2 separate regions of the Homo sapiens genome follow, and region 2 is reported to be linked to region 1. The links are microRNA targets in miRTarBase. Many come from high-throughput screens and were not tested one by one. Region 1 holds a microRNA gene; the other region holds the end of a gene's coding sequence.

What was found. The annotated mature microRNA hsa-miR-204-5p reads UUCCCUUUGUCAUCCUAUGCCU and lies in region 1 at 1,207-1,228, shown strand. An mRNA with a match to its seed (bases 2 to 7 or 8) in the 3' UTR can be bound and repressed. Matches are read on the target gene's strand: a 7mer-m8 pairs with bases 2 to 8, a 7mer-A1 pairs with bases 2 to 7 and ends in A, and an 8mer does both.
Region 2: the mRNA of ZNF362 is a reported target of hsa-miR-204-5p. Seed matches in the 3' UTR shown: 7mer-m8 at 1,203-1,209.

Annotation. Positions count from the first base shown.
Region 1 is chr9:70,808,107-70,811,258 of GRCh38, reverse strand. MIR204 (microRNA 204) reads left to right here and starts at 1,175; the gene lies at 1,175-1,284. All of the region lies in intron 6 of TRPM3 (transient receptor potential cation channel subfamily M member 3), which reads left to right.
Region 2 is chr1:33,298,798-33,301,797 of GRCh38, reverse strand. ZNF362 (zinc finger protein 362) reads right to left here. Exons shown (of 9, transcript NM_152493.3): 9 at 1,079-2,868. The coding sequence ends at 2,752. Among named protein-coding and RNA genes, the nearest start is that of A3GALT2, 21 kb to the left of the region's middle. RefSeq lists an enhancer at 1,466-2,415 and a silencer at 2,847-3,000.

The sequences.
Region 1 (3,152 bases):
TTATTTTTTGACAGGATGCCTGCCGTTTTTCTCTCTTGACTCCCGCTTGTTTTATTCATTTTGGGGTAGTTGCCAGTTAGACTCAGTTGGTAAGTATAATTAATGGAAAATGTGAATTTCTTCTTAAACTCCAAGAAATTAACCACAGAAGTCTTCATTTCCTTTATAATTTCCTAACAGTATCACTCCCTATGACTGTTGTTTTATCTCTATCTCTTCTGACATTCAACCACATCAGAAATTAGTTACTCCCTATTATTTATCATCCTAAAGATACCATATAGGACAGCTTGACGGCACTATTGGGATACTACTAGGAGGGAATGAGCATTTATTTAGGTTCCAAGCACCATGCTAGGCATTTTCATATATACTATCTCTTTTAATACTCACAAAAACCCTTCAAGATAGGGATTATTTTCTTCCTTTTATACAGTTGATGAAATGGCACCTCCAAGAGGTTAAGCCTTTGCCTTAAATCCAATTAGTGGCACAGCTGGGTGCAAACCTAGGCTGACATAATTCCAAAATACTTTCTCCTTTCATCCTACACATGGAAGCATTATCTCATTTTTTTAAAAAGGCTCCCCTAAAGTTTGGTTACCTTGGAGAGTTTGAGGGTCATTATTCCATTCAGCAACTATTTGAGCACCAACTCTGTGCCAAATATAGGTTGAGCATTGATTCAGTTGGAATGAGTCATCAAGCAAAACTTTGGGAAGAAGATGGTGGTTAGTTGCAAGATGGTGGAGAAACAATATTAGGAAGAAATACAACAGGGTGCTGGAGAGGAGCGTGGGGATGGAGGCAAGCAGAGGACCTCCTGATCATGTACCCATAGAACAGGGCGATGGAGAGGAGGGTGGGGTTGGAGGCAAGAAGAGGACCTCCTGATCGTGTATCCATAGGACAGGGTGATGGAGAGGAGGGTGGGGTTGGAGGCAAGCAGAGGGCCTCCTGATCATTTACCCACAGGACAGGGTGATGGAGAGGAGGGTGAGGGTGGAGGCAAGCAGAGGACCTCCTGATCATGTACCCATAGGACAGGGTGATGGAGAGGAGGGTGGGGGTGGAGGCAAGCAGAGGACCTCCTGATCATGTACCCATAGGACAGGGTGATGGAAAGGAGGGTGGGGGTGGAGGCAAGCAGAGGACTTCCTGATCGCGTACCCATGGCTACAGTCTTTCTTCATGTGACTCGTGGACTTCCCTTTGTCATCCTATGCCTGAGAATATATGAAGGAGGCTGGGAAGGCAAAGGGACGTTCAATTGTCATCACTGGCATCTTTTTTGATCATTGCACCATCATCAAATGCATTGGGATAACCATGACATGAAATTTTCCATCATTGGGCCCATAACTGTCCCATAAGAGAGATGAAAAACACTGTATGTTAAAGGTCATAGTAGAACTTCATCCAAGCAGCTCTGGAATTAGGAAGGAGTGAAATATACTCTCAAAGACTAATAGTTCTGGGTCCAAACCATGTGACTTGAAAAGGAAGCAAAGATTCCCCTGGACAGGTTACATATACTGTCATGCATTGCTTAACGATGGGGTTACTATATCCTCAGAAATGAATCATTAGGTGATTTTGTCATGAACATCATAGAGTGTACTTATACAAACCTAGAAGGTATAACCTACTACACACCTAGGCTATATAGTATAGCCTATTGCTTGTAGGCTACAAACCTGTATAGCATGTTACTATGTGGTAGTGAATACTGTAGGCAACTGTAACACGATGGTAAGTATTTGTGTATCTAAACATAGAAAAGACACAATAAAAACATAGTATAAAAGATACAAATAGTACACCTTAATAGGGCACTTACCATGAATGGTGCTTGCAGGACTGGAAGTTGCTCTGGGTGAGTCACTGAGTGAGTGCTAGAATATTTTTGTATACTACTGTAAACTTTATAAACACTGTATAATTAGGCTATACTAAATTTATTTTTTAAATTTTATTTCTTCAAAACTAAATTAACCTTAGCTGACTGTAACTTTTTTACTTTGTAAACTTTTTAACGTTTTAAAACTTTTAGACTATTTTGCAATAATACTTAGCTTAAAACATAAGCACATTATGCAGCTATACAAAAATATTTTCTTCATTTGCTTATTCTATGAGCTTTTTTCTGTCTTTAAAATTTTTTATCTTTGTATTTTTTAAACTTTTTTCTTAAAAATGAAGACACAAACACACTCATTAAACTAGGCCTGCACAGGGTCAGAATCATCAAGATGTCACTAGGTGATAGGACTTTTTCAGCTCTATTACTACCTTATGGGACCACCATTGTATTTGTGGTCTGTCATTGACCAAAGTGTCATTATGCAACACATGACTGTATATCAAGAACATCTTATTTCCTTCTGTGGGTGCTACAATCTGTTCAGCCCAATCATGCAAACTTTCTACTGCCTCAAACAGTCAAGGGAAAGGCCTTCCAAAACACAAATACCAAATTGATGATCAGTTCACTTTAGACTGTAATGACATCATTTTTCAGGTGCTGTCAAGTAAACATGTTTAAAGCTTTCTCCGCCTTTTAGAGGGTCTTCCCTCTAAAGAATAATTTGTGAGGAATAAACAACACAATCTATATCCCTGCTTTTTCATTATATGAAACGACTTGACACAGTTGGCTGTGTAACTGAAATATTTGTCATGCTTGTTAATGAAAAGTTACTTTGTCAATAAAGGTAATAATGAAGCCAAAAAAATAACTTTGAGGGAACAGAGCAAATTTTAGCGAAACTGGTTTCTTGGTATTGACTTGTCATGTTTATCTCACCCATTTTCCTATTCAAGCTAAAGACCTCCCTTTTTTCAGCAAAGAGACTTTTCTACATTGGAATTAGTTGTTCAGGGACTGGGATAGTTCTTGTAAACAAGTAGGTCCCAACAGGAGAGCTGTCCACCATTCTAAGACTTCTTAGACACTTTTACATTCAGGGAAGAATTTTGAGCTCCCTTTTCAGATTAGAAAGATTTGGGTTGCCAATGTTTGACTGGCATTTTGGTCTCAAAGTCAGCAATGTTTACTGTTGTTGGTCAGATACAATAGGTTCCTAGCATAACATAGGAACCTGTTATCTTGATGGAACCCAATATCTTCCTTATTTCATTGCTAACTACCT
Region 2 (3,000 bases), not on the chromosome of region 1:
CACCCTCTCTTGCTCTTCTGCCTTCTGGCATGAGATGACATGGCATGAAGGCCCTCACCAGATGCTGGCACCATGCTCTTGGACTTCCCAACCTCCAGAACTATGAGACTGGAATTTATCATGAACAGAATGAAATTTCTGCTCATTATAAATTACTGAGTTTGTGATATCCTGTTATAGCAGCATAAAACAGATGAAGACACTGAGGCTTTTGTCAGAGAGACAAGAGGCTTGATTGCTGGAACCCTGGGGACTGAGAGACTAGAGCTGCTGACCCCACAGGCGCCTCAGGCTGAAGCTGACTCAGAACAGAGTGGAGAGCTGGAGACACATCCTTTGAGCCCTGAAGCTGGCCTGACCACTGTCCTGTTACATAAGCCAATACACCCTTGTTTGGATTGGACTTTCTATCACTTGCAGCAAAGTCTTGACACATGAGGACTGTGAGGACTCAGGGAAACGAGTTCGAACCAATGATGACCTCCATGGTAGATGACCTCCATGATGACCTTCCATGGACAGTGGAAGCACTGTCCCCCTCACAGTGCTTCCACAGGGCCAGACATGATAAGCTTTTGGGGATTTTATTACTAAATTTCCTTCCTAGGCAGTCAAAACATTGACTCCTATGGGGAAAAAACAATGTATGACAAGGATGTCTTGGACTCCCCCTCCAATCACTAGAATCACTTCCACAAATCAGGCACTCATGATGGACCCCCCCCCCACATAGGTGGGGTGCCCCCTCAGGGAGCAGTGGAAGTGAGACTTATTGGTGGACCTAGTATATCCAAGAAGGCTCCAGAACTAGGCAATGCTGGGTCAGTTTATGTCACTGCCACTATACTGCAGCATGATCCTTAGCAAAGGGCCTCTCTTGGTTTGCTGCCCACTTCTTAGGGAGTTGTGAGGCAATCAACATAAAGCACTCAGTTCAGCACCTGGAGTGAGGCCAGCCCACAGTGAGAGGCCACTTTCTTCCTTCTCCAAGTCTGGGGGGCGGGGGAGGGGAGAGGAGCAATGGAAAGGTGCCCCCCAGCCCTGCCCTCGCACAGAGCACGCCAAACACCACCGCCACCCGGGTGCAGGTACAGTTTATTCTTCACAACAGAGAAATACAAAGAGCAGAGGGTTTGTAATTCCTTTGTTTCTTGCCCCCTTTAGTGTTTTCCCCCCACATTTGATTTTCATTTGCTCCCCACTCCCTTTTTTAAATAGAATGCAAACTACCTTCCTGAAGTGTCTGAGGGGCACCTGCCCTCACCTCCCTGCCTCCAAGATGCAGACTGAGAAGCCAACAGACTGTTTTTTCTTTTTTAATAAGGTAACTAGTTCTAAATATGGTGGCCTGGAGGTCCCATAGAAAAAGCAAAGGGGTGTTAACAGTATGTATAACAGCGTATTTACAGGGAGTAACATGCGGACAAAAAGCTACAATACTGAGTATCAGACGACGCAAGTCAAACAAAGGGCCGGGGGTGGGGGCAGAGAACCCCATGGGCAAAGAAACCCCAGGAAACGTTAAACTGGTAAATCAATGGCGAGTTAAGGCTTAAAAAGTGTATAAAAATAACACAGTTAATATTCAAAACGGAACTCCAGATACAGAATATATAGATGAGTTTCTGTCTAGTTTTCTTTTTTTTCCCGGGGGGATGTAGGGGGCTTCTCTGGGCTCTGTACATGGTTCCTATATACACCGACACGCATGGCTTTCAGATTGGGGTGTGTCTGTGGGGGCTGGGGGCAGGGTCTGCTCCTGGGACCTGCCTCCCCGGGGATCCCTTCCCTGCTGAGGGGCCTAGGGCCTCGGCTGGGGATTCCCACTCCATGGCAGGGAAGACAAATAACCCCTCCCTGGGCACTGCCCCCATCTGGAGGAAATTCTGGAGGGAGGTCCCAGATCCAGGCCCACTCCCTCCCCATCCCCCTGCCCACAGTCTGGGATGGTGGGAGAGGTAGCCGAAAGGTTTCCTGGCCAGCACCGAGGTAGACTGGGGTGGTCTTCAGGGCAGCAGGGGAGGGCCAGGTCTTACCCAGCCCATCCCCACCCCATTTCCCTGGGCCCGCCACCCAGCCCATCACTGCACCCTTTGGTCCTGTGGATCTCCCACCCCTCTCGTTTCTGCCTCCTGAAGCTGCCGCACCCCTCTGCTCAGTGATGCCCAGGGCACAGCTCGAGAGGTGCGAGCCAGGCACTCAGGGGCGAAGGGCTCACTCCGGCTGCTTCCTGCCCCTCCCACCTGGGGGTCCCCTTTGCAGTCCAGAAACCTAGGCCCGAGCCTTCCCTCAAGACCTGAGGCCATGGCAAGAGAAGGTCCCACATTGCCCTCTGGTTCTCTGCGTCCATCTGTCCGATTCTTTAAATTTCTCGGTCTTAGCAGCACCAACTTCCTGGCCAATAAATATCTTTTCTGTTATTTCCAAAACAAACTTAAAAAAAAAAAACGAAAAAAAAAAAAACAGTGAAGCAAGTGAAGGGTGGGGAACAAAAAGAAAACTCAACAGAGAGGTTCAAAGTGCTCTGAGATCGTCTTTGGATGCCACCAAAACAGTCCAGAATCTTGCAGTTGGCCTGGCCGCCCCCGGACTGGACCAGGCAGGGCTTCTGCGGACCAAGCTTTCTGGAAGATTGGGAAGGTCGTGAGAGAGCTTGGTGGTTCCTGGAGGGCCCCCGGAGGGAGCTGGGGCCTGGTGCTGCCTGGGTCTGTGTCTGCCAGTGGGCCGGGTGGGGCGGCGCCTCCAGTGGGCTCAGATGAGAGAGATTCGCACCGGGATGCCGGGGGACTCCGTCCTCTGGGGCGAGTGATGGCTCACCAGGTGCTCCACCACCGTGTGTTTGGACATGTGCTTCATCAGGTAGGTCTCCTGTGGGCAGGGATGAGATTCAGAACAGGGAACCACCAGCAAGGGAGGGAGAAGAGGCTGCAGTTCCCACCAGCAGCCACTGGAGGGCTCTTGGTAGGCGGTTCAGAGGGTGGAGGACAGCCACAGTTTTGC